Homo sapiens: one gene and its partners. The protein of the gene in region 1 purifies or fractionates together with the protein of each later gene. This does not show direct contact. Each region holds a gene or a part of one and is shown on either strand. Other genes may lie near its edges.

Evidence for each region.
Region 2: the proteins of BMP15 (region 1) and PPP2R2D purify together in Homo sapiens (affinity purification with mass spectrometry, with the first as the bait; one large-scale study listed by BioGRID). This does not show direct contact.
Region 3: the proteins of BMP15 (region 1) and FAM20C purify together in Homo sapiens (co-immunoprecipitation; one large-scale study listed by IntAct). This does not show direct contact.
Region 4: the proteins of BMP15 (region 1) and AMD1 purify together in Homo sapiens (affinity purification with mass spectrometry; 3 studies listed by BioGRID and IntAct, with this or other methods). This does not show direct contact.

Annotation. Positions count from the first base shown.
Region 1 is NC_000023.11:50,906,913-50,915,472, forward strand, and holds the start of BMP15 (bone morphogenetic protein 15 preproprotein), read left to right. Parts: upstream 1-3,822; 5' UTR 3,823-3,871; coding exon 3,872-4,199; intron 4,200-8,560. UniProt on the Homo sapiens protein: May be involved in follicular development. Oocyte-specific growth/differentiation factor that stimulates folliculogenesis and granulosa cell (GC) growth.
Region 2 is NC_000010.11:131,902,100-131,909,972, forward strand, and holds part of PPP2R2D (serine/threonine-protein phosphatase 2A 55 kDa regulatory subunit B delta isoform), read left to right. Parts: intron 1-7,873. UniProt on the Homo sapiens protein: Substrate-recognition subunit of protein phosphatase 2A (PP2A) that plays a key role in cell cycle by controlling mitosis entry and exit. Involved in chromosome clustering during late mitosis by mediating dephosphorylation of MKI67.
Region 3 is NC_000007.14:241,100-248,092, reverse strand, and holds part of FAM20C (extracellular serine/threonine protein kinase FAM20C precursor), read right to left. Parts: intron 1,679-6,993; coding exon 1,586-1,678; intron 1-1,585. UniProt on the Homo sapiens protein: Golgi serine/threonine protein kinase that phosphorylates secretory pathway proteins within Ser-x-Glu/pSer motifs and plays a key role in biomineralization of bones and teeth.
Region 4 is NC_000006.12:110,883,638-110,888,335, reverse strand, and holds part of AMD1 (S-adenosylmethionine decarboxylase proenzyme), read right to left. Parts: intron 832-4,698; coding exon 745-831; intron 1-744.

The DNA of each region.
Region 1 (8,560 bases):
AAATTGCAGATGAACTGTGTAGCCTAGAAATATCAAAAAACTTAAGAAAAAGTTACATATGTTATGAATGTATAAATATATATATAAACTAGTCTATTTTATTATTTTCTACCATAAAATACACACAAATCTGTTATAAAAAGTTAAAATTTATCAAAATTTACACACCCACAGACCATACATGGTGCCATTCACAGTGAAGAGAAATGTAAACAAATGTAAAGATTCAGTATTAAATCATAACTGCATGAAATTACGTACCCACCTCCTCTTGCCATGGTGGTGAGCTCAAGTGTTGAGAGTATCTGCTTAAAATGCCACCATGTGATGCTAATCATCTCCCCTTGAGTGGTCTGCTTTAACAATAAATTGCATATGGAGATAAAAAGTGATCTCTCTTGAGGCTGCAGTGAGCTGTGAGCATGCCACTGCATTCCAGCTTGGGCAAAAGAGTGAGATTCTGGCTCAAAAAAGAAAAAAAAGCCATCTCTGGTAGTTCTCCTGTACGTTTCACCATGTACATTTCATCGTGTTTAGTGCAATACTGTAAACCATGAATAACACCGTGGGACTCACATGAAGTGCCACTACTGCTGCCAGAAGTGCTCCTAAAAAGCAAAGTCATGACATTCCAACAAAAAGTTGAATTGGTTAATATGTATCATAGATTGAGATCTGCAGCTGTGGTTACCTGCCATTTCAGACAGACGATGTAAAACTTAGAGTACTGATAAATACAGTACAATACTGTAAACGTATTTTATGTTTTTAAATCATTTTTTTGAGACAGGGTCCTACTCTATCACCCAGGCTGACTGGAGTTCAGTGACGCCTTTATGGCTCAAGCAATTCTCCCACCTCAGCCTTCTGAGTAGCTAGGACCACAGGTGCATGCACCATCTTGGCTAATTTTTGTATTTTTCATAAAGACGTTGTTTCAGCATGTTGCCCAGGCTGGTCTCGAATTCCTGGGCTCAAGCTATCCTCCCACCTCAGCCTTCTGAGTAGCTAGGACCACAGGTACATGCACCATCCTGGCTAATTTTTGTATTTTTCATAGAGACGTTGTTTCAGCATGTTGCCCAGGCTGGTCTGGAACTCCTGGGCTCAAGCAATCCTCCCTCCTTGGCCTCCCAAAGTGCTGGGATTACAGGTGTGAGCCACTGCCCCTGGCCTTAAAATCATTTTCTTTTCTGTGGCTTACTTCATTGTAGGAATACAGTATATAAAACATACGACATACAAAATATGTTAATTGATTGTTATCCATAAGACTTCTAGCCAACAGCGGACTATTAGTATAGTCATCCCTCCTCTCTGTATACATGACAGATTGATTCCAGGACCTCCTGCAGATACCAAAGTCTGCACATATTCAAGTCGCGTGCAGTCTATTTTTCAAAACCCACACATACAAAAAGTCAGTCCTCCATGTAAGCGGGTTTTGCATCCTGAGAATACTGTATTTTTGATCCATGTTTGGTGGGAAAAAAAAAACGTGTTTAAGTGGGCTCGTGAAGTTCAAACCCATGTTGTTCAAGGTTGACGTGTAGTTAAGTTTTTGGGGAGTCAAGTTATACCAAATTCTGACTGCATGGGAGATGGGGGGGCGAGTTAGCACCCCTAACCCCCATGTTGTTCAAGGGTCAACTGTATTGCCTCTTCCAATATGTTGTAAGAATAAGTATTGTTTCAGAAAAGATTTACTTCAAGGTATATATGCGTGTGTGCTTGTGTTTGTAATGGGTAGCAATGTAAAATGTATTCATTTTTGTAAGTCACAGACAAAAGTATCTAAAACTGCTACTGCTTTAGCAATAGCATTGCTGAATTGTATATCTTCAACCTTAACAGAGATAATGCCAGATTGCTCTCCAAAATTATTATACCAAATCACACTCTCAACAGCAGTGTGAGATGTTCCATATCTCTCTATATAGAATCTCTCTATATAGAATATCTATATAGATATTCTATATATTATACCTATGTTCCATATCCTCACCTGAACTTAATAGTGCCAGACTTTTAATGTGCTATCGATCCATTTAATGTGCTATCAATACTGGGTGTTGAATAGTATCTTAATGTTGTTTTCAGTTGCGTTTTTCTGATTTCCAGTACATCTTTTCATACATTTGACCATCTAAATTTTGCCTATTGTGAATCATCTGTTTATATCCCTTACTTGTATATTATACAATACAACCCTCACAACAGCTCTCTGAAGGAGCCAGCAGTATAGATGAAGAAACTAAGTCTGGGAGAAATGTTGCTTAAAGTAACCCAGCTAATGAGTTTTTGAGCTGAAATTTGAGTCCAGATGTAGAGGACCCGTAAACCTATGCCTTTTGTTTTACACTACATGCCAGGGCCCAAGGTCATGTTAGAAAAAAAAACAGAGGAAGAGCACAAATAAATTTGAACATGTAACCCTATGTCTTGTGTCTAATTAGGCTTTGTGCAATTAACATAGATTATTTCCTTGCTTCCTCACAACAACCTGTGAGGTAAAACGTGTTATCTCCATTCTACAGATGAGAAAACTAAGGTGTAGGGAAGTGAAGAAATTTGTCTTGGAAGGGTTAAATTACAGCTAGAAATTTGCCTTGGAAAGGTTAAATTACAGCTAGGGACAGAATTGCAACTCAAACACAGATCTGCCTGATTACCAAGTCCACGCCTGTTCCACAGTAATGTCTGTCCATAGATACTCCTGGTGTAAGGTAAAGGCCTCCCACAAATCAAGCCTGACTCATCATCTCCTAGAGCCAGGTCTTGACCTGCTTCCCCAGTTTCTCTCCAGATCCCCATATGTTTCTACTTCGGTACGGCCAGGACTATACCTACTATCTTTCTGCAGAATAATGGTCTGAGGCAGCCTTAAAACTGGCCGAGCCCTGCTGCTTCACATTAACCATCTGGGCTAGGTTAGCTCCCATAGATTACTCTTCCCCTTCCTCAGGCTTCTCTAATGAAGCCCAATAAGGATCTCAACACCTTCCAAGGTAAACCAGAAAATTATAAGTCAGAGTCCTTAAACGTGGCTGCACATTAAAATCACTTGTGAACTTAAAAAAATCCTGATGCACTAGTTACAACCCAGGCCCATTACATCAGAATGGTACCCAGGCATTCATAATAGTTAAAGCTTCCCAGATGATTCCAATCTACAGCCAAGATTGAGAACCACTGTTACGGCATCTTCTTCAAGCTCCAGCAGCCATACTCAGTAGTTTCCACATTTTAGGTTTTCATAGGAACTTCTTGGAGCACTGGTAAAGAGCCAGATTTCTGGACGCCATCCCAGAGAATCCTGGTTCAGACCCAGGAGTCTACATTCTTAATAATCACCCCAGATAGTTTCACTGCAGATTATTAGCAGACAATATTTTGAGAAATGCTGCATTAGAGGCATGGAAGTAGGATGGGAACAGGAGGCCTCTGGCCCTTTAAGGATGGATTAAGGGACTACTTTTAAGGCTGTAGGGGCAAGTAGGATCAGGCTGCTTTTTTTCATTCTAGTGGATAAGTTAAGGAAGTGGGTCCTGAAATGGACCTCTCCTTTTAAGTTACCTGAGCCTCTCAATAGGTACTATCTTGTTCTCAGCCCGGGAGAGCGGGAGGGGCATGCTGCCTTGTCCCACCTTCTGTTTCTGTTTCTTTTGATGCAAAGAGGCCAAGTTATGAGGCAACTTTGGTCCAGGAGATCCTCTTAGAGAAAGCAACATAGGGCCTGCCTGCCTTTCTTTTTCTTGCCCCATCCTTGGTTGTGGAGCCAGGATGCAGTTATCTGCATGAAAGGAAATGGTCAGAGTGACGTCCCTTGGGCTTGTGTTGGGGCCTGTTGTTGAACACTAAGCCTTTCAAGATGGTCCTCCTCAGTATTCTTAGAATTCTTTTTCTTTGTGAACTCGTGCTTTTCATGGAACACAGGGCCCAAATGGCAGAAGGAGGGCAGTCCTCTATTGCCCTTCTGGCTGAGGCCCCTACTTTGCCCCTGATTGAGGAGCTGCTAGAAGAATCCCCTGGCGAACAGCCAAGGAAGCCCCGGCTCCTAGGGCATTCACTGCGGTACATGCTGGAGTTGTACCGGCGTTCAGCTGACTCGCATGGGCACCCTAGAGAGAACCGCACCATTGGGGCCACCATGGTGAGGCTGGTGAAGCCCTTGACCAATGTGGCAAGGCCTCACAGAGGTGAGTTGTTATGCCCCCATACTGCCCTGGAAGGGAGAGAAGTGGAGAGGAGTGTAGAGAAAAGGGAATTGGTGGGTTTACTGTCAGGCTTTGTTGCCTTGTGGGCAGGTTGTTTCTTTAGGCTTGGTTTTCAAAGGATGGCAAGCTTTGGAGAAGCCAGCGCCAAGCCTACTTCCCTTTAGGGCATCAACTTAAGAACAGATTGCCTTGGTGCCTACTGAGAAATCTTTCCCAGGCCCCAGGACAACTGAGTGATGTGCCATCACCTATCTTTCACAGAAACTTTTATTGCTTGTGATAGTTCTGAAAACTGTAGAGACATATCCAGCTATATTCTTGTGGAGGGCTATTTAAGTGGCGTTTTGCTCTTAGAGTACAGCTTGCTGAGTTGGGGAAACTTATAAGGCCTCAGAAAGGACATAAATAAGCTTACATCTGAGGGTCTGTATACCTGGCTCTGTGAACATGTGCTACTGTATTTCTTAATGAAAGCTACTATCTTAACTGTCTTGATGCAATTAGCCTAATTTTAAAACTAAGGCACGGAGAGGTTAAGTAACTTGCAAATGGTACACAGATAGTGGGTCGCAGAGATGGGATTGCAGCTGAAGTCTGTCTGATTCTAAAGTCTGTCGGTAACTTCTTAAGTCTTTAAATGCAGTATTCCAATATCCTTGTACCCCCAATAGTTTTTCTACTTGGGCCATATTGCTACTTTGGGATTCTGGGACTAAGTGTATTTTGGAACTTTTTTTTGTCCCCATCATGCTTGATTTTGCTTTTAACATTTGCATCAGACATTGTTGCAGGACAACAGTGGGCTATTGAAGTGTAGGACTCTCTAGAGAATGCAGACAGTCATCAACTTCAAGGAATTCTTGGGAACCTAGTGAGATCAATCTGTAGCCTTCACTAGTCTGAGATGAAAAGGGACAGGACTTAATCCCCTCCCCAAGCAAAACAATAAATATTCTCGTACCTAACCCTTACTGTGAGATTACTGTGTGCCAGGCATTGCACAAAATGTTTTATAAACATTATCTTAATCCTCACAACTACCAGATTAGGTAGTATTAACATGCCTACTTGATAGGTGAAGAAACTGAGGATCAGAGTCACTTACCCATGTCATACAACCAGTAATTGCTAGAGCCAGGTATCAAACCCAGGCTCTCAGGCCCAAAGCCTGTGTGTTAATCATCTTGCTGTTCTGACTCCCCACTGGATTTTAATTGAGTGCCAGGCAGTGTGTTTGGGTTGGGTATATAGAAGCAAATACTTTTCCGACCTCTAGAAGTTCCCAGTATAGTGGAATGGATAGATAATTACATAATAATGTTACAGTATGCCAAGTGCTTTGGAAAGGACAAACAGTAGGGCTCCCAGGACCTATGAGAAGAAATGGCTCATTTCTTGAAGTGAAGAGACTGTTGGAAGGCCTCATGGAGGAGGTAGTACTTGAAACTGACCTTGCAGAAGGAGCAAAGAGGTCATGCATTGAGGCAGATAAGTGCATTCTGATTTAGGAAAGAGAAAATGGTGTGGGTAGAGATTCATTGAACAAATATTAGGTGCCAAATGTTGGCACCTACTGAGTACTAGGCATACAGATGTGATCAAGATAGGTAAAACCCCTACTTTCATGGAACATATGTTCTCGTAGGGGAGACAAATAAGCACACACAGTTAAATTGTGAATTGTGGTAAGTGCTATCAAAGGATGAAGTAGGTTGTTAAGATAGAGAATGGCAATGAAACCTTCCCTTTCCATGGACTTGTCAGGGAATGTATCTTTGAAGAAGTGCCATTTGAGCTCAGGTCTATAAGATAAACTAGGCATGAGAAGAGTAGGGAGAAGCCTGATTTAGGCAGAGGAACAACAGGTGCAAATGCCTAGAGGGTGAAAACAAGTTGGTTCCAATTGAAGAACAGAGGAAAATCAGTATGGCTGGATCCTCATGAGCATTGTGGGAAATGGCAGGGTATGAGGCTAATGAGAAGCAGGGACTTGTAGGCTGTGATAAGGGATCTGGATCCTAAGAGCAGCAGAAAGTTGCAAAAAATCAAGCACTTTGGGAGGCCAATATGGGAAGATCACTTGAGCCCAGGAGACTGAGACCAGCCTGAGCAACACAGGGAGACATGTCTCTACAAAAAATAAAAATACATTAGCTGGGTGTAGTGGTGCACACCTGTGGTCCCAGCTACTCACGAGGCTGAGACCAGAGGATCATTTGAGCCTGGGAGGTTGAGACTAGAGGAACATTTGAGCCTGGGAGGTTGAGATTGCAGTGAGGCATGATTGTGCCACTGCACTCCAGCCTGGGTGACAGTGAGGCCCTGTCTCAAGGAAAAAAAACAACAACCCCACAAATTAAGAAAAAATTAGGCTTGTACAGATGATGTGAGGCTAGAAAGGAGGATGCCTAGAATTAGACATGTATCCTGGTCTCACTGTGGAATATACTGGTATCTAGGGACTGTGGAAAGGATCCAGAGACAGATGACAGGTTCAATCACACAGGATGTGTGATTCAGCCCTTTCCCTGAAAAGCTTTGACCAGACCCTTCCTGGCTCTGATTCTTAGCAACCCCATCCTGCTTCAGGAAACATGTGATGTCAAGGTCTCAAAGAAAAGGGCAGTTCCTCCCCAGACAGCCTGCTAGAGGTTTGGGTTGAGTTCCTTTATAGCCAGGGTGGAGCAGGTTTAAGGGTGGGCCTCTAAGAAAGATTACTGTAAGATGGGAGTGTGGAATAACTTGAGAAAGCAAATACAAGCCTGGCTTGGATTTGTGTGAATAATGTCTAGTGCGCCAAGCCCAAGGGTATATTAAGCATGAGTTGGAATTTGACCTTTTATTTTACTTATTTTTTTGAGATGGAGTTTCGCTCTTATCATCCAGGCTGGAGTGCAGTGGCACAAACTCGGCTCACTACAACCTCTGCCTCCCGGGTGCACGCCATTCTCCTGCCTCAGCCTCCCGAGTAGCTGGGATTACAGGTGCCTGCCACCACGCCCGGCTAATTTTTTGTATTTTTAGTAGAGGCAGGGTGTCACCATGTTGGCCAGGCTGGTCTCAAACTCCTGACCTCAGGTGATCCGCCCGCCTCAGACTCCCAAAGTGCTGGGATTAGAGGCGTGAGCCACCGCGCCCAGCCGGAATTTGAACTTTTAAAGATATTCTGGGGCTGGGTGCAGTGGCTCAAAGGGCGGCTAATCCCTGCACTTTGGGAGGCCAAAGGGGGCAGATCGCTTGAACCCAGGAGTTCGAGACCAGCCCGGCAACATGGCAAAACCCTGTCTCTACAAAAAACAAAACAGAAAAAGCTGGGCATGTTGGCACATACCTGTAGTCCTTGCTATCCATGGGGGCTGAGGTGAGAGGATCTCTTGAACCTGGGAAGTCAAGGCTGTAGTGAGCCATGATTGTGCCACTGTACTCCAGCCTGGGTGACAGAGGGAGACTCTGGAAAAAAAAATTCTGGAACATCAAGATGTAAAAGAACTTCTGTGTTAAAAATGCCACATCTAATGAAGAATTCCAGGCTTGTGGATTCAGTGGAGAAGAAGGACTAGGTGAATAAATACAAATTAACATGGAATTATTTACTGATAAGATGTCTGAAGATGAGAGGTGGCTTTTTCCTGTGGTGCCAGGCTTTTGTAATCTTTGCTCTTGACCTTCGCCGGGAGGGGGTGCAGAAGTTTGGAGCACCATGGATGTAACCTTTCAATCCTTTGGCCGTTGAGTGTCAGCACTACAGTTTGGATTAAAGCTCTTATTCACAAAGCAGCATCCAGCTTTTAGTAGACTTCTCAGCAAACAAAATATTTATGTGATCAAGACTGTGTTGAAAATAGTATATAGAGGAATAGTGGTAAAATGAATGGGGTAAATGGAGAACAATTTCCAGCAAGGAGTGGTAAAGAGAGAGATTAAGGGCCAAAGGAGGAAAAGATGCTTAAGAAGCAATTCTTGAAGTAGATGGAAGGCAGAAGTGGTAAGATAGCTGTCTGTACTAGAGGATGATAGACAAAATTATTTTGTAGTGCCTTGGTCCTGAGTTTGAAATTATAGCAGGCCATAGCACCCAATACTGAATTGTTGTCCCAAAGCTGCATCTGTATAGTGATATGACATGAGACTCTTTCTTAATCCATGTATGTTTCAACAATTCTAAATGGACACATTTAATGGTCAACTAATAATAATATTGATCTTCTCCCCTACATACAGTATGCACACAAGATAATTCTATATTTGAGTTTTTTCCCCCGAGCCCAGCACTGTAAGTAATCTAACAGTGAGACAGTTTCTCTTAAGAAAAACAGACTTGGGTTCAAATCTTAACTCTACCA
Region 2 (7,873 bases), on another chromosome or scaffold:
TCACCTTAAAGTTAAAAAGCTATGTAGCTTTCCTTTTTCACCGTTGAATGGAGAACTTGGTCGAGTCTTAGAAGTTTGATTAATATTTCAGATTCAGAGTCATAGTGACTTTTTTGTTGTTGTTCATACATCTTACTGAACATTGTAAACCTTTAACCTTTTCTTAAAAATGATTGGTGTTTGCACCAAATACACCTTCCCTGCCTCAAGTTACTAAAAGCCCCTTGTCAGACGTCCTGTTCACTTCCCTCCATCTCGGCCCCCCCAACCCCGTGAACTTTTACTCCCTCTTCCCTACCCTGTACCTCTCCCTGGCAGTGTCTGGTTTGGCACATGACCCCTGAGGACATCTGGAGATTCTGCGCCCCCTGGGACAAACAGGGCCTAGGTTATTAAGCAGGTGAAACTGGGCTCTAAGAAATGCGTAATATATATGGTTTGAGATTAAAACTAGGTGCATTTTATGTGATCTAAAAAGTTTATTGATTTTATTTCTTTAAAATGCATTACTTTTTTTGTTTGATTTTGCATATGCTAAGCAAGTGACAGTTCAGCCTTACTCAAGTGTGATTTCTGTCGCAAGTAAAGCAAAACTTGTTTGGGAGTAGGAAAGTGAGAGGGCTTAATGCTTGCCTTAATTTCTGTTAACTCTTTATTTTGTTTTTTGGAGACAGGGTCTCACTTTGTAGCCCAGGCTGGATGGAGTGCAGTGGTGCGATCTGGGCTCACTGCAACCTCTGCCTCCTAGGCTCAAGCGATTCGCCCACCTCAGTCTCTGAAGTAGCTAGGACCACACACACGCGTGCACCACCACACCAGGCTAATTTTTGTATTGTTGTAGGGGATTTCGCCATGTTGCCCAGGCTGGTCTTGAACTCCTGGGCTCAAGTGGTCTGCCCACGTCAGTCTCCCAAGGTGCTGAGATTATAGGCGTGAGCCACCGCACCTGCCTGGTTTCTTTACTTAAAAAAAAAAAAATTATTGATAAGCTGAATGAATTAAAATTTAAGTATAACTAAGGTAGTATATTTTAAATGTGACTGTACACATATGAAAATAGTATTCTTTCTTTAAAAAAAATCTTGGGCCGGGTGTTGTGGCTCATGCCTATAATTCCAGCACTTTGGGAGGCCAAGGTGGACAGATCACTTGAGGTCAGGAGTTTGAGACCAGCCTGGCCAACACAGTGAAACCCCGTCTCTGCTAAAAATACAGAAGTTAGCCGGGCGTGGTGGCACATGCATGTAATCCCAGCTACCTGGGAGGCTGAGGCAGGAGAATCACTTGAACCCGGGTGGTGGAGGTTGCAGTGAGTGGAGATCGTGCCATTGCCCTCCAGCCTGGACAATAGAACAAGGCTCCATCTCAAAAAAAAAAAAAAAAAAAAAAAATCTTGACAAATACTTTGTTCTCTGAATTAAACTGATGGGAACTTTTTGCAGTTTTAAATCCCTATTTTAAGTTAAATTTTGAGTAAATCCAAAAGTTTGGTATTTCGAGTTGTCGTGGTTTCTTTTGTAACATTGCTTTGTGGTAATTATCTGCATGTGTTTTGGTTATTCTGTGTATTCAGAGCTGTCTATTTTAATCCATGTATGCTTTGGCCATAGTAACCCATCCAGATTAACACATTTATAAGTCACCATCGATTTGTCCCATAGTTGTGATACCGTTGCTTTGTATTAACACCAGAGAGTCAGTGATGATGAAGGGAAGTGTAGTCGTTAGTCACCAGGGATTGCTGAGCAGCAAGGATCAAGAAGCTGGTCATGCCCAAACGCAACCTTGAGGGAGAGATGTTGGTGAGAGATAAGAGATGGGTGGCTGGGTACGGTGACTCACACCTGTAACCCCAGCACTCTGGGAGGCTGAGGCGGGTGGATCACTTGAGGTCAGGAGTTTGAGACTAGCCTGGCCAATATGGCGAAACCCCATCTCTACTAAAAATACAAAAATTAGCCAGGCGTGGCAGGGCCGGCCTGTAATTCCAGCTCCTCAGGAGACTGAGACAGGAGGATTGCTTAAACCTGGGAGGTGGAGGTTGCAGTGAGGCGAGATGGTGCCATTGCACTCCAGCCTGGGCGTCAGAGCGAGACTCCGTCTCAAAAAAAAAAAAAAAAGGAGAGAGATGGCCGGGCGCAGTGGCTCACGCTTGTAATCCCAGCACTTTGGGAGGCCGAGGCAGGCAGATCACAAGGTCAGGAGATCGAGACCATCCTGGCTAACACGGTGAAACCCCGTCTCTACTAAAAATACAAAAATTAGCCGGGTGTGATGGCGGGCGCCTGCAGTCCCAGCTACTTGGGAGGCTGAGGCAGGAGAATGGCATGAACCCGGGAGGCAGAGCTTGCAGTGAGCCGAGATCGTGCCACTGCACTCCAGCCTGGGCGACAGAGCAAGACTTTGTCTCAAAAAAAAAAAGAGAGATGGGCAGTTCACAGGGGTTTTTATCGTGCACTGCTGCTCAGGCTGTAGAACTTAAGGTATAGCAGATTTTGTTTGTTTAGATTTGTGGCTTGTGAGGCATTTTGTTCTTGAAGGTTTTGTTCTGGGCCAAGTTCAGCTCTGTAGAGCTTTACTACAGCCCTGCACTCTGGCCGTCTTTCTGCCCTCTCTGCAATGGGTAAGGAGAAGGAGCCTTAGAGATTAAGGCCTGGGTCCTCTCCTGACTTCAGTGGGGTGATGCCCAGTGCACAGGAAGTGGTGCAGGGCTAGGAGTAGGCACTCCTGACTTTGGAGGTCATGAAGTGAGTGACATAGAAAAGCCTTTGGTTTTTGTTTTGATTTCTGTTTTGTTTTTAAAACTAATAGTTTTGGGCTGGGGAATCAGAATCAACCTATGGTGAAAGTGCTGGCCTATGTAAAATTTGATGCGCACCCCACCCCCCTTTTTTTTTTAAAAGAATTGGGTTTAGCTATGGGTCAGGTCATTTTGCTAAGAGTTGTGATTCCACTGGGTCATCAGACTTCCCATCCCCCTGCAGGTAGGAGTAGAGCTGAGCTCACAAGGAAGTTATTAAGTGTCCTGCTGATGAGCAGGTGTATAAGCAGCAGTCAGTGGTGACTTGCATCTCCTCCCTTTGCTGGAAGGTGGGACTAGGTGAGTTTATATGCTGAGTTGACCAAGAGTTAAAATAGTAAAACCAGGGGGCTTCCAGCAGGAAGCAAGTAGAAAAGTTGTTTGTTAGCTTCTAATTCCACGATGTTGCGGTTCTAAACGGTGGCTCCTTTCTGGAAATTGTTAACTGTTGTGCAGATTTTTTCTGCATGTTATGGAATCACCTTCACCCAGCCCCTGCTCCCTCTCCTGGAACGTACTTCATTCAGCATGTGATGTGTTTTGCAATGTCACATGGTATTTCATCCTTTGCTTCTCTCTCTGGTAGACTGAGCTCCTCAAGCTTGAAGGCTGGCTGTCCCCCTTCCCACCCCAGCCCTTGTAGAGGACCCAGCACGAAGGTCATGATAGGTAACAGTTGCTGAGTGGTCATTCTGTGCTAGAGATTGCTCGCAGTGCTTTTCCTATGTCAGTGAATCTTCACACCACCGAAGAAGGAAGGAAATACTGTTCTTCCCAGTCTCAGATGCAGAATCCGAGGCGTGGGAGCAATTAACCTGGGTCACAAAGCGAGTGTATGGCAGGGCCAGGGTTTGGAGCCACGCCGACTGGCCGCAGAGCCGTGGAGCGCTGTACTGCTTCAGCGACCATTTGCAGCCAGCACAGTACTGATGAAGCCCCACTGTGGCATGCGGCCGTCCAGCCTTGGGATGGAGCTGTTCTTCTAAAGCTCGGTGAAAATCTTACTACCAAGAGGCGTGTGAAAATGCTTTTGAAGGCAAATGAAAATGGAATGCCTTTAAAGGAAGTCTGTGTCAAAATGATAGAAGATTAGTAACAAGGATTCAAGAATAGCATCACTTTCCAACCAATTCTCAAACTATTTGAAGAGTAGATACCACAGAGACAGTAAGTAAGTGAAACACCTGCACGTCAAGCAAGTGCTGCAGCACCTTTGCCTGTGATGTCACTTTCCACATGACTGCAACCTGCTTACCTGCAGGGAAGCTATGGGTCTTGCTCCTTTATATATTACACTAATTGCTCCTATGGAGAAACCGTGGGGAGGGGTTGGGGGAGGAGGGTCTTATATTGAACCTGGTTTTATATAGCTTTATAGCTTGATAACAGCTGGTTCCTTTCTTCTCAGAATTTGTAGTTTTAAGTGTATTGGGGTTTTATTTGTTGATTTTGCTTTAATCAGTTTCTTAATCCATGATCTGTTGCTTTGAATTAGACATTAACCTGTTTCTAAAGAGATAGACTAAACAAAACTAAAGGTTTGTTTGCTTAAGTCAAGCTTGAGTCTGGGGAGTTATGTAAGTAACATAGATATCTGGTTAATCTGGTAGGATAGCCTTTCCAAGGGAGTTTACATTGGTACTTTGAAAGAAACATTTTAAGTCGCAGAAAGGTAACAAAAATTAAGTTAACTGTAGCATCAGCACCAGAAAGTTACTGTTTCATTGAATGTAAGATAATGTCTGGCTCGGTGGCTCACGCCTGTAGTCTCAGCACTTCAGGAGGCCAAGATGGCAGGATCCCTTGAGCCCAGCAATTTGAGACCAGCCTGGGCAACATAGTGAGATCTTGTCTCTACCAAAAAAAAAAAAAAAAGAAAGAAATTCGGGACGTTTGCCAGGTATGGTAGTACACACCTGTAGTCCCAGCTACTCAGGAGGCTGAGGTGGGGGCATCGCTTGAGCCAGGGAGGTTGAGGCTGCAATGAGCTATGATTGCACCACTGCACTCCAGCCTGGGCAATAGAGTGAGACCTTGTCTCAGAAAAAAGAAAAAATAATAATAATTATATATGTATATATATAATCTTTGAAATTAGGTGTGTCTTTTATATATAATCTCCTATAATGTCTTTTATATGTATATATAAAATCTACATCTAATTTCAGAGATACTAAGATGTGGGGAAATGTACTTAGAATCAATGAAATACGGTGTTGGTGAATGCAAAACTTGTCAGTCATATTTATTGATTTCTTCTGTGTACAGATAATGGGCATTTGGTATTTATTCATTTATATTTTTTTTTTGGTCTTAATGGGACATGGTGTCTGCTTATTTGAATTATTTCCGGTCTGATTTCTATATTCCATTGTAGAATTTTCATTTACTTAATATTTATATCTGTGCCATTGAAGAGAACCTTCAGGAAAGCATCCTCTGGGGAAGGCCATCAAACAAGCAAACAGTCTAGTAATATTTTGCAGTTTGACTTATGAGAGCTTCATAGGAAGCCTCTGCCTTTAGGAAGTCAGTTGTATGCCTTAAGATTCACAGACTCGCCGGGCGCAGTGGTTCACGCCTGTAATCCCAGCACTTTGGGAGGCCGAGGCGGGCGGATCACGAGGTCAGGAGATCGAGACCATCCTGGCTAACAGGGTGAAACCCCGTCTCTACTAAAAAAAATACAAAAAATCAGCTGGGTGTGGTCGCGGGCACCTGTAGTCCCAGCTACTGGGGAGGCTGAGGCAGGAGAATGGCATGAACCCAGGAGGCGGAGCTTGCAGTGAGCGGAGATCACGCCACTGCACCTCCAGCCTGGGCAGCAGAGCGAGACTCCATATCAAAAAAAAAAAAAAAAGATTCACAGACTCATCATGCTTAGTACAGCCACATCTTAACGCTCAGGAGGCTGGCCTGGTCATCGTTACATCGTGAAGTTAAGTTTACAAGATATGTGGTGGTATTGAATCATACCTGGTGATTTTCCACGTTCCCTGATTTTAAGCAGTCTGCTGTTCTGATGGGAAGTTCCAGGTTGGGTTTGTGTCTGCTGTTTTCAACTCTGAGGGCCCCTTTCTGAGCTTCAGCTCGCTTATCTAGAAGTTAAATCAGAAGCTTTTTGTTAAGATCAAACAATGTGCAGTGCTGTTGCAACTTGAAAAGTGCTTTTCAAGTATTAGATACAACTGTTAATTCTCTTGTATTTTAAAGTATTGGGGCTTGGTTTTAGCTATATTTAAACACAAAAATAGCAGTTTCTTGTTTTTCCTTACCTGCTTCATGTCCATCTACCCAGATCCCTTCCACTGGGCCTGGCCTCTTAATGTTTACGTTATTATTCAGTGATTATTCCCATCCCTTGATCTTTGCTCCTGTTTCTTTCTTTGCCTAGAGTATTTATTTTGCTTCCTGTCCATTCCCTAAGCCCTGCTGATCCTTCTAAATCCACCTCCAATCCCACTTGGCGAGTCCCTGCTCCAGCTCCCCTCAGCGTTCAGTGTCGTCTTAGACTCCAGATTTCCCTTTCACACTGTGTTCCATGTTGTTTAGCAATTGGCTGTGTCCTGCTTGTGGTTCCCTTATTTTATCACATGTATTATTAGGCTCGTCTCTCCCACTGGATGTCAGTCAGCATATGGAATGTCATGATATTACCAGGTGATGGAGAGGAATTGTGCACGTGGAATTTGGTACACATCCCTTTTTCACCCTCTTCAGGCTTTGTGTTAACTTGGGAAGTTACTTACTCTTTTCTCATCTGTTAAACGGGTACTATTACTTGTGACCATTACAGGGTTGCTGTGAAGATTCCAGAAAATGTATGGAAAGCTCTGACAAACAAACACGTTAACTGGTAACTGTTCAGAGGCTGTTGTCTTAAGAGACCCTCTTGCATAGGAAAATAGCTGACTCTGTCACTTCAGGGAGCCAGTTTAAGAAAAATGAAGGGTAATGCAGGGGCCAGCTTTCAGCTTGGCACATCTGAAAAGTTCACGACAGCATACCAAAGGGCTGCTAGTGCTGGCTGTTGGAAATAGAAATGCAGTTCTTGCCTTCAGGAAACGCTGTTTGGACACAGACAAGCAGGTGGGTCCTTGCACCATGGCTGGACCAGAGCACACTGAGGCAATGTGAAGAAGTACCCAGTACACAGACTTGGGTAGGGAGTGGAGGGGAGGACATCAGGGTATAAGAAGAGGGAGGAAGGGAAGGGGAGGAGAATGTTCCAGGTGGAGAGTGCTTGGTGTGGAGGTTGGACAGAGCATGGTATGTTCTGAGAGGTCAGTGCTTGGCATGGTCCTCTGGCAGAAAAGGGAGTGGCTGTGATGAGCAGGAGGCTGGCTGGGGCCACAGGATGATGAATAAAGGACTTGAATCGTGTGCTCAGGACTCTGAGTGATTGTGAGCTTTTCAGATCCTAAGCGGAGGAGCGACATCAGCTTTGTTTTTAACAAGGTCACTCTGCCCTTTGGAGAGTGGATGGTGGTGGGTAAGAATGGAGATAGGAAGTTACTGCAATAATAAAGATTGGGAAAATGGGCTTACTCTAGTTTCGGGGTGGCCAAGCTTTTTTGTAAAGGGCCAAATGGTAAGTATCTTAGACTTTCAGGCCATCCTGTCCCTGTTGCAACGACTGAATTCAACTCTGCCTTTAGCAGGAAGACAGCCATAGACCCTGCAGAGATGGATGGGCGTGGCTCTGTGCCCTGCTTCCACAGGAGCATGCCTACAGAAAACAGGCAGCTGGCCAGATGTCGCCCAGGTTGTGGTTTGCTAAACCCTGACCTAGAGTTGGTTTGCAAAGTCTTTTGGTGCTGGAATAATTTTATACTCTTAATAGTTATATTGAGGATCCAGAGAGCCTTTGTTTGTGCTGGTTATCGCTGTTGATGTTTTCTATATTTGAAATTAAAACAGAACAACTTACAATATTTATTTTACTTTAAAAGAATCTACTACATGTTAACATAACCTTTTTAATGAGAAACAACTTTTCAAAAACAAAAAGATTAAGCAAGAAGAACAGTGTTGTTTTACACTTTTGCACATCCTTTTAAAATATGAGGTTTA
Region 3 (6,993 bases), on another chromosome or scaffold:
GATGCCTCACTGATGGGCACACAGCACCAACTGCCTGCATAGCTAAAGCCTGCCCTCATTCCAGGGCTAAATTTAAAACAAAATTAAATTAAAGGAGCCACTTTTAATGGAACTCCTTCTGAACCACACCACAGGCTCCCACTCGCTTAATTAAATGGAGAATGCAGGGCGAGAGCTTTTCTTGCTGACGGAGGACGTGGTGATTGTCCTGTGAGGCGAGGTGACCAGGTGTGGAGGGACGTGGGCCGTCTGCCAGGGCCGACCCGGGACCCAAGGCCCGACCACGCCTCTGCGTGGAGCACCCTCCCCCTCCACCTGTCAGACGGCTCGCCTGGGTGCTGGGCTCTGTGTCCTGTTTTATAAACAGGTGGACCCGAGGGGGGCTGTTTCCTAATGACCCTCCCCGTCTTTCTTTTCATAAAAAGCCCTTTTTGGGTTCAGGCTGTTCTAGATAGCTGAAATGGTGGAAAATCTGGCTTCTGGCGATTTCTATAGTCACCACAGAAGACTTTGATCTTTAAAAAAGCCCTTTAAACTCCAATGTACGCCCGCGTCACTAGGGATCTTGTTAAAATGCAGATTCTGTCCCAGGTCTGGGTGGAGCCCAGGACTCTGCATTCCAACTAGCCCAGGGCAACCCCAATGCTGCCGGCCCTGGGGCCGCACCCCAGGCTGGGACGTGTCAGGGCCGTGCAGGGCAGGCAGGGAGGCTCTGGGGGCTGAGGGTGGCGCCTCCTCCCTCCACTGCACCAGGGCAAGGTCCTTCAATCCACGGGGCCCCTCTGGACCTGGGCCAGGCCCGTTTACTGCCCTTGGAGGGCACTGAACACGGACCCCCCACTTTCCCAGCAGCAGGGCCAAGCTGACCCTCACAAGGGGTTCACTTTCTGCTGGGCTGGGGCGGCCCCTCTGGAGACAGGCGACCGTGGGGCCTCCCAGGCCCCCTCATCACAAACATCGCTTCCCCCTCCTTAGGAAGCCTGCTTTGGTCTCCCAGAGAAGCCTGTGCTCTGTGAGTCTCTGTGTTAAGATTCGCAGCACTTAATACTCCCCCTTCCCTCCCTGCCTCCTTCCCTCTTTCCTTTTCCTCTATTACCGACCGCACAGCAGCTTCTGTGCCTCCCATCTGCCTGAACTGTGGGGGTGCAGGAGGGGCCCATCTGGATTAAGGTGCCCTGAGGGCAGGCGCCCTCTCCCTCGGTGACAGAGGGATGATTAGGAGCGTGGGAACCTGGGCAAATCGCCGCTCACAGAGCCTCAGTTTCTCATCTGTAAAGGGGGATATGAAAGGCTCTCCCTACCGCGTGTTGTGTGGGCTACGATGACACAGAGGGCCCTGCTCAGGGCAGCACTCGGGGTGGGGGGAGAGCAGGCACCGGCGCTGCCTGATGGTGACAAAGGTGACGATGACATACAGGACCCTGCTCAGGGCAGCACTCGGGGTGGGGGGAGAGCAGGCACCGGCGCTGCCTGATGGTGACGAAGGTGACGATGACGTCCTGCTGTGTCCAGTGCAGGACGGCCTCACTCACCGGTGGGTCTGAGCGCACGGGAGCGCGGATGGAGGGAGGAAGGAAGGGCTCACCTGTCCAGGTGGAAGGCAGCAATCTCCGCATTGTGCCTCTCGTAGTCAGAGAAATAAAAAAAGTCAGGGGGTGTCTCCTGCTCCCTCGTTTGTCTGAGAAAACAAGACAGAAACAGAAACGGTTTGTCACTGAGAAAGCCTCCAGGGGCCGGAGGCAGGCGGGACGTGCTGGGTTCCTCATATGAAAAATGCGGTGGAGCTCCAGCCTCCTCAGGGCCACCCTGAGCCTTCGGGACCCTGGGCACCCAGCTGCCGACGGGCCCTCAGAGCAGCGCAGGCACGTGCGACGGAGGCCGGGGGTCCCAGCTCCCCGTGGCCCTGACCCAGCTGCCGACGGGCCCTCAGAGCAGCGCAGGCCCTTGCGACGGAGGCCGGAGGTCCCAGCTCCCCATGGGCCCTTCTCAGGTAAGCTGCTCAAAGGCCTCTCCTGCACTGGCTGGGGGCCCCGGCACGTCCACCCTGGGACCCACAGTCACACCGCAGGGGAGAGGCTGGGCTCGGTGTCCCAGGCCTGGCTCAGCCCCGGTTTGCTGTGTGCACCCTGGCACCGCCCACCCTCTGGTTTCCGAGTCTCCCCCACGGCCTCCAGGACCCCTTGGCTCTGCCGTGGACGCCTCCCACAGTAAGAGCCCAAGAAGGGCAATGTGGGCACCGCCCTGTCCCTCCACCCTGGCCAAGGGACAGGAGGCCACAGGTGGGGCTGTTTATGAAAGGTCAGTGCCATTCTGTAAACACCATAGGGCTCCTGTATCTCAGGCCAATACTCCAGGGGAAGGGGAGCCTAGCCGCAGGGCCCTGTGAGGTGCCGGTCCACGCAAGTGTTTGACCGATGTGGTCATGGTGGAAACGTGGAGGAATTGTCAAGGTCGTGTCTGAGCATAAGTGTGTAAGCGCGTAAGCGTGTAAGCGTGTAAGCATGCTTCCTCCACCAAGGCCGGCCCCTGCCATGCTTCCCCCACCAAGGCCGGCCCCTGCCTCCACTGGAGGGAGAGCCTGTCCCAGGGCGTCCACCCAGGCCAGGCCCAGGGAGGGAACTCAGCCTCCAACCCAGGCTTCCTCCACCAAGGCTGGCCCCTGCCTCCACTGGAAGGAGAGCCCGTCCCAGGATGTCCTCCCATGCCAGGCCCAGGGAGGGAACTCAGCCCCCAATCCAGGAAGAATTTACCAGATTCAAACTCTGGTGACCTTTCCAGGTGCTGGAAACCAGAGCTGGCGGGAATCCCCAGCTCGCACGCCCTGCAGCCCACACCTCCCACTCAGGGCAGACTGTGTTCCGTCTGGGCTCCAACACTCCAGCAATGCAGACTACAGACGCCGCCCCGGTCACTTTCCCAGCCCTCGGCTTCCCCGGCCGGGTCCTTCCTTCCATATACGCAGCGGAGGTCCGCCCAACTCCTGGGAGCATCCTGGCCCTGCCACGGGCCGACATCATCGCCACACGAACAGCGGGGTGGGGCACAGGTCCTGTATGTCATGTCCACGTCCCTTCGGGGGGACCACGTCTGGGTCACAGGCCGTCAATTACACACCAGCCCGTGGCTCCCGTCCTCCCACGCTGTTCTCAGAAAGCTGTGGCCACAATTCTCCGTGTTCCCGGAACGTTTCTTATGGGGGGTTAAAGATGTGTACCACCCACGGCCTTTTTAAGAACTAGTCTCTGCTGCTAGAAACTCTGAGAACAGACCACTTTCCACGATCCCACATAATATTCGCCTTGACAGGGCCCTGGGTAGGCGCAAGGCCAGATGAGGATTCCAGGAGCTACTTAAAAATAAAATGCGGATGGTGGGCTGGCGCCTGAAGGTCACATTTGCTTCATAACCCCACTGGGTCTGTGGCCATTGCTATCTCTGTGCACTTCTGAAACCAGCAGCAAAGGAGGGTTGGGGTGCAGGGCAGGGCAGTGGCAGGTATGGCGGCAAACTGAACATGCTGCCCGCCAGGGTCGCCCTGCAGAGCCGAGGCCCAGACTGGCCGGGATCCTGAGGTTCAAGAGAAAGAATCTAGACCTTGTGGAATCTCCCGGGTTTTAAGCGCTGGCAAATGGATTTCATTTTTCTAAAACACTAAAGGTCAAACCAAATGGTCCGCTGCAGTCAGCCCGCAGTTCCAGGGGTGGTAAATTCTGGAGTGTTGGATATTTTTGAGGTTAAAAAGCCTTCGTTGTTTTCAACTTGGAAGGATTGGCTTTGAGCAAAACTCATTCCACAGAACACTAGTTCTACTAGATTTTAGTAACTTTCAGCTGGAAAAAGGGAACTCCAGATGGAGGCAAGATTTCTTTTCTGTAAACTTCGAGCCTTACGTCTGCACAGTGACTCCCCAGAACGGCCCAGCATGAGTCCAGGAGTTCAAGACCAGCCTGGGCAACATAGTGAGACCCCAGGTCTACGAAAAATAAAAAAATCAGCTGGGCGTGGTGGCACACACCTGTGATCCCAGCTACGCGGGAGGCTGAGATGGGAGGATCACCTGAGCCCAGGAGGCCAAGGCTGCAGTGACCACTGCAATCCAGCCTGGATGACACAGTGAGACCCTGTCTCCAAATAATAATAATAATAATTATTATTATTATTATTATTATTATTTTCTTTAGAAAATCCTCAGCTACTTATCAGTTGGGCAGTCAGAATTCACTGTAGGCCCCTGGAGCAAAGGCCTGCACCACTGGGTGCCTGATAAAGCCGCTAGGAAACTGAGCTCCTGGGACATCCACTGCAGAGGCGGCGCCCAGGTCTCCTGGGTGGCACAGGTCTCCCGGGTGGCACAGGTCTCCCGGGTGGCACAGGTCTCTTGGGTGGCACAGGTCTCCCGGGTGGCACAGGTCTCCCGGGTGGCACAGGTCTCTTGGGTGGCACAGGTCTCCCGGGTGGCACAGGTCTCCCGGGTGGCACAGGTCTCTTGGGTGGCACAGGTCTCCCGGGTGGCACAGGTCTCCCGGGTGGCACAGGTCTCTTGGGTGGCACAGGTCTCCCGGGTGGCACAGGTCTCCCGGGTGGCACAGGTCTCTTGGGTGGCACAGGTCTCCCGGGTGGCACAGGTCTCTTGGGTGGCACAGGTCTCCCGGGTGGCACAGGTCTCTTGGGTGGCACAGGTCTCCCGGGTGGCACAGGTCTCCTGGTTAGCACAGGTCTCCTGGTGGCACAGGTCTCCCGGGTGGCACAGGTCTCTTGGGTGGCACAGGTCTCCCGGGTGGCACAGGTCTCCCGGGTGGCACAGGTCTCTTGGGTGGCACAGGTCTCCCGGGTGGCACAGGTCTCCCGGGTGGCACAGGTCTCTTGGGTGGCACAGGTCTCCCGGGTGGCACAGGTCTCTTGGGTGGCACAGGTCTCCCGGGTGGCACAGGTCTCTTGGGTGGCACAGGTCTCCCGGGTGGCACAGGTCTCTTGGGTGGCACAGGTCTCCCGGGTGGCACAGGTCTCTTGGGTGGCACAGGTCTCCCGGGTGGCACAGGTCTCCTGGGTGGCACAGGTCTCCTGGTTAGCACAGGTCTCCTGGTGGCACAGGTCTCCCGGGTGGCACAGGTATCCCGGGTGGCACAGGTATCCCGGGTGGCACAGGTTTCTTGTAGGTACTGTCTTGGGGGGCAGCTGTTCTCGCCCTGGCCAGGTCCCCTGGACACACAGCCACTCCACGTCCCTCTGAGCCTGCCCCTTGGTGTGGGCACCTGGAGTCACCTCACCCCCAGCCTGGCCTGTCCATCGGTGCTTCCTCTGTGATGGACGTGACCTTCTGCGCTGTCCAACTCGGCAGCCAGTGGCCACACATGGCTGTGGGACACTCGAAATGTGACCAGAGCCTCCAGAAACTGAGTTTTAAGTCTGATTTTATCTTAAATCTAATGGGCACACCTGGCTAGTGGTGTGCAGTGCAGCTCTGAGAATGGGGCCTTCTGAGGCCTCTGGTGTCTGCCCACTGTCCATCCCGCTCCCTGGCCAGGATGGAGGGGGCCGAGTCCACCCCCTCCCCCAGCTCACTGGCCCTGCCCCCAGTGCACCGAACAGTGCTGTCTCCCCAGCCTGCAGCCCAGCCTGCCCTCCCTTCCCACCCTCCTCCTTCTGCTTTCTCAGTCAGGACTGTCCTGGCCACCGCCTCCAGGAAGACCCTCTGGAATCGTTCCGTCCTGCGGACGCCCCTTGCCCTGTACACACAAGGCCTGCAGAAGGGCATTTGTCAGATCCGCGTCCCCGGACCCACAGACAGCACATCTCCAGGTCTGGGTGTTCATCTTGCTGCTGCCACTGACCCTCGCCAGCCCAGGTTCCAAACCCCAGAGGGAGAAAAAGAGCAGCTGCCTCCCAGAGCTGTTGCGGGACGGGCACACACAGGGCCTGGTACACTGCAGGAGCTCACCGTGTGGTGATGTGGACGTCTCAGTAGCAGGCGAAGTACAATGGGATGTCCCCGCAGAGCTCTCCAGGCCTGCCAGAGCGCAGGGGGCCTCTGGGGACACTGAGGCCCAGGGAGGGGCTGGCCCAGGCAATGTCCACTGAGCGTTGGCATGGGGCTGGGCCTGGATGCTGAGTGGTTTAGTTCTAACCACCCACTACAGTATGCATACGCACGCACACACACAGATGCACATTAACACGTGTGCACATGCACACATGAACACTCATGCACACACACATACCCACTCATGCACACACACACACCTGCACGCTCACAAACGTACACACGGGCACACACACAGATGCACATTCACACGTGTGCACATGCACACACACTCGCTCATGCACACACACCCACCTGCACACTCAGAAACACACACACGGGCGCTCACAGTGGATGCACATTAACACGTGTGCACACACATATGTGCACAGATACATGTGCGTACACACATTCATGCACATGTGCATCCATACACTCGCACACTCACAGATGCACACGTGTGCATGGACATATATGCACACTCGCAGGAGTGCACACACACACACACACACACACAACCCCCACAGAACAGTGCTGTCGGAGGCCTCTTGGTGAGAAGGGGACTAAGACCCGGCTCCATCGATCTTTCCCTGGCACAGCCTTGCAGCGGGGCTGGCTGGGAAAGCGCATTTAGTGGCCCTGAAAAGGCGGAGTCTGATTTCCTCCCTGCAAAGAGACTCAAAGCTCACGCAGAAGACGAACGACTTGCTGACTTGAGTCACCTGCACAAATCCGGTCATTAAAGCACATCCCATCTGGCGGCTCCCATCTGACCCTGTGTTCTGCTCCCGGGCAGAGGGCAGCAGGCAGTGAATTCTACTCTGGGCTCCGCTCCCGAGGCCCTCGGGCCACTTCCTGCCACAGCTGGGCTGAAAGCCCCAGGGAAGGGGCCAGACCCAGGTGACCCCAGCAGGAGGAAGCAGGGAGGGAGCAGCCCCAGGGGCAAGGAAGAAAGCAGCTTCCAACAAACCACC
Region 4 (4,698 bases), on another chromosome or scaffold:
CTCAGAAAAAAAAAGGGGGGGAGGGGCTGTTTAGTCCAGTATCCCCCAGCAAGGCCCATCACAATATATACTATAAGCATTAAAAGTATTTATGGAATAAATTAACTCTGCAACTACAAAAAAGGTGATGAGCTTTTATATACCAATTAGACAACTGTATTTGTATAGAGAAGCTAACTTTCCCTTTGCCTGAACTTCTAATTAAGAGGTCCTTCTTTACCAATTGGGAGGAAAAGACGGCAAACACCTTGAACTGTCCGGTGAGGCTTCAAAACCTATGTCCTAGAAACATCCACGTTACACTAAATGTTTCCTTTTATACCATATTTTTAAGAATAATGTAAAAAAAAGGCTGGGCGCGGTGGCTCACGTGTATAATCCCAGCACTTTGGGAGGCCGAGGTGGATGGATCACCTGAGGTCAGGAGTTCAAGACCAGCCTGGCCAACATGGTGAAACCCCGTCTCTACTAAAAATACAAAAATTAGCCGGGCATGATGGAAGGTGCCTGTAATCCCAGCTCCTCAGGAGGCTTAGGCCGGAGAATTGCTTGAACCAAGGAGGCGGAGGTTGCAGTGAGCTGACATGGCGCCATTGCACTCCAGCCTGGGTGACTGAAACTCCGTCTCAAAAAAACAAAACAAAACAAAAAAACCCCCAGAACTACAACTGAGAGGAACTTAACTGTTTCACATTATGATTAGGACTGAAATTAGCTACCTAACACTTGTTTTACAGGACTTACCTGAGTACATAAGCTTCCTGCTTGTCAGTTTTTGTCACACTTATGATTGAACATTGCACATCCTTCAAAAGTATGTCCCACTCAGATCTATCATTTAACAAAAAAGTTACGATTAATCCACAATAGTACCCACCTACTCATAAAAATTACAAAGCTCACACTTTTTCTCATGAAGACCACATTTTTAATTAATATTGTACACCAACTTTTAGTTTCTTTCAAAATAATCTATATTGACACACCCAGATAAATGATAGGTATATTATGCTATATATGAAACAAAAATTGGTCATTATACTATGTATTTACAAATTACTTAAAGAAAAATAGGCAAAAAAATGTTCAAAGGTCCATAAACCAAGGTAAACCATTAACTAATCAATGATTACAGAAATTCAATGGGATACTTTGTCTATAAAATGTGCAGATTTTTAACCTTAAGAAACACTTAAAAAAAAAGAAGAGCATAATTTTACCAATCTAATTGGCATAGAAATTTAAAAGCCTGTCTGTCGGGACACAGTGAGTGATGTTACTCTTATAGCACTCACAAAAAACTGGAATGACTGCCAATTACAAGCATACCTAGAAGATTTTGGGAATACTACGCAGCTCTCCAAATGCAATGAGAAAGCCCGTTTAACAGGAAATGTGCAGTACAAGCAACCATAGCAATGAAGGTCATATGGACATGAAGAAACTAGTCTTAATTTGCCTGAGAATAGAATTAGGAAAGTGTTCATTCTTTCATTAGTGTGCCCATTATAAAAAGACAATGTAATTCCATGGAACAGCTTAACATGACAGATATTATTTTTTGAGACAGGGTCTCACTCTGTCGCCCAGGTTGAAGTGCAGTGGTGCAATCACAGCTCACTTCGGCCTTGACCTCCCAGGCTCAAGCAATTCTCTTGCCTTAGTCTCTCAGGTAGCTAGAACCACAGGCATGTGCCACCATGCCCAGCTGTTTGCCAGAAATATTTTTTAGGCCAGGCGTGGTGGTTCACGCCTGTAATCCCAGCACTTTGGGAGGCCAAGGCGGTGGATCACTTGAGGTCAGGAGTTTGAGACCAGCCTGACCAACATGGTGAAACCCTGTTTCTACTAAAAATACAAAAATTAGCCGGGCGTGGTGGCAGGTGCTTATAATCTCAGCTACTCAGGAGGCTGAGGCTGAGGCAGGAGAATCGCCTGTAATCCTAGCACTTTGGGATTGGGATGGCTTAAGCTCAGGAGTTTGAGACCAGGCTGGGCGATAGAGTAATACCCTGGTCTTTAAAAAAAGAAGAAAAATTTTTAAGCCTTATGATATCTGACAGGCCATTGCTCTACACTCATAAAAATGGCAAATCTTTTTTTTTTTTTTTTTGAGACTGAGTCTTGCTCTGTCACCCAGGCTGGAGTCCAGTGGCATGATCTCTGCTCACTGCAACCTCCACCTCCCAAGCAGCTGGGATTACAGGCACGTGCCACCACACCTGGCTAATTTTTGTATTTTTAGTGGCGACAGGGTTTCACCATGTTGGCCAGGCTGGTCTCATACTACTGACCTCAGGTGATCCGCCTGCCTCGGCCTCCCAAAGTGCTGGGATTACAGGCATGAGCCACCGTGCCCAGCCGGCAAATCTTTTGTTAACCAGATAAGACCTTTTGAGCGAAATCCAACAGCAAAATGTTTTTATTCGTTTGTATTAAAAAGCAAACACAACACCAAACATGCCTGGTAGAATTTTGTGCCTGTCTCACCATTTTGCTACAAGAAACTGTTACTGACCCATCTGCGTACCAATACCCATCCAAAAATCTTTAATGTGAAAGGCTTGCTAATGATTACAGAGCTGAGTTCCTGTATTAGACTATAACATGACTAAGCAACTTTTTTAAAAGAGCTACTAAAAAGTTTTAAGGTTCTTTAAAAAGGGTGCTAACAATTTGTTCATATATGGAAAGAATACATATGTGGGATATATACTGTGACAACCCTTGAAATTACCCCTGGCTTGTGTGGTGGCACACGCCTGTAATCCCAGCTACTCGGGAGGCTGAGACAGAAGAATCACTTGAACCCTGAAGGTGGAGGTTGCAGTGAGCTGAGATCTTGCCACTGCATACCAGCCTGGGCAACAGAGGGAGACTCCGTCTCAAAAACAAACAAACAAAACAAAAACAACAAAAACTTGGCCAGGCACAATGGCTCATGCCTGTAATCCCACCACTTTGGGCAGCCGAGGCGCATGGATCACCTGAGGTCAGGAGTTTGAGACCAGCCTGGCCAACATGGTGAAACCCCATCTCTACTAAAAACACAAAAAATTAGCTGGGCGTAGTGGTGGGCGTCTATAATCCCAGCTACTCTGGAGGCTGAGGCAGGAGACTGAATGCGGGAGATGGAGATTGCAGTGAGCCGAGATCGCACCACTGCATTCCAGCCTGGGCGACAAAAGTGAATCTCCATCTCAAAAAAATAAACAAACTACTCGTGGGAATGAAATCCTGCTTCACTTGACTAAGATAAATTTACAAAATCCTTGCAAAAATTATCTACTATTAAGACTCCCATTCCTGAATATGAAGGTAAATAAAAATATCCACTATGATTTAAGTATTAGAAACATTACAATTTCAGATTTTTAAAGAGCTTATCTAATTCAGGTCCATCAATAATGCTACCTGCTTAAGTCATCACCTACTGACTTCCCACTATAACTTATTCTTGCACATACTCCTTTTTACCCACTGGACGCACTAACAAATCCCACCCTCCCTTTCTCAGTTATATTCACCATTTCTATTAAGACTTTTAAACACGTTCCATGGCTGAACTAAACAGTGTAACAGTCTTTTCCTTTCTTATTTTTGTTTTCTCTTTTTTTAAAGGCTGTTGTGGCCAGGCACTGTGGTTCAGAGGCCAAGAAGGAAGGATCACGAGACCAGAAGTTCAAGACCAGCCTGGGCAACATAGCAATAGCCAGTCTCTTAAAAAGAAAAAAGGCAGCTGGGAGTGGTGGTGCAGGTCTGTAGTCCCAGCTACTCGGTAGGCTGATGTGGGAAGTTTGCTTGAGCCCAGGAGATGGAGGGTGCAGTGAACCATGATCACACCGCTACACTCCAGCCAGGGTAACAGAGCAAGACCCTCTCTTAAAACAAAGTATTCACCCTTACAACTTGTAGCACAGATACTTTAAAGTCTTGGTCCATGTCACCTTGAGGTTGGTGTCTGCTGTCTTTTCCTTTGAGATGTTAAGATTTTCCTGGTTTTGAGTATGTTGACTAATTTAGGATGGCATCCTGGATATTTTGACATGTTACATCATTCTAGGTCTTGATTTTTAAAAACTTTCAGCAGACAATCTGGTTTGGTTTAGGCTTCAAGTTTTTACTCAATGTTTCTAGGTTGTGTTATGGTTCCAGTGTCAGGTTTGTTATGAACTCCTTTGCTATGTTATTTGCATCTGCCCCACTTATTTGCCACCCAATGGCCAGGCTGGCCCTGGAGAGGCAGTCTATTGTGTATTCTAGTTTTCAAAGCCTCTGATGTGCTGTTTAGGGTCAGATCCATGCAAAATGGCTAAGGAGTGTTCATATAAAACTTTATAGGTTTACTTTCTTCAACCTTCCATAATCTCTCTGACAATGCCTGACTCACATAGGGGATAGGGGAAGGACTCTTCTTCATCCACTACCTATAAAAATAGGGCTTTGGCCGGGCGCAGTGGCTCACGCCTGTAATCCCAGCACTCTGGGAGGCAGGAGGATCACAAGGTCAGGAGATCAAGACCATCCTGGCTAACAAGGTGAAACCCCGTCTCTACTAAAAATAAAAAAAAAAAAAATTAGCTGGGCATGGTGGCGGGCACCTGTAGTCCCAGCTACTTGGGTGGCTGCGGCGGGAGAATGGCATGAACCCGGAAGGCGGAGCTTGCAGTGAGCCGAGATCGTGTCACTGCACTCCAG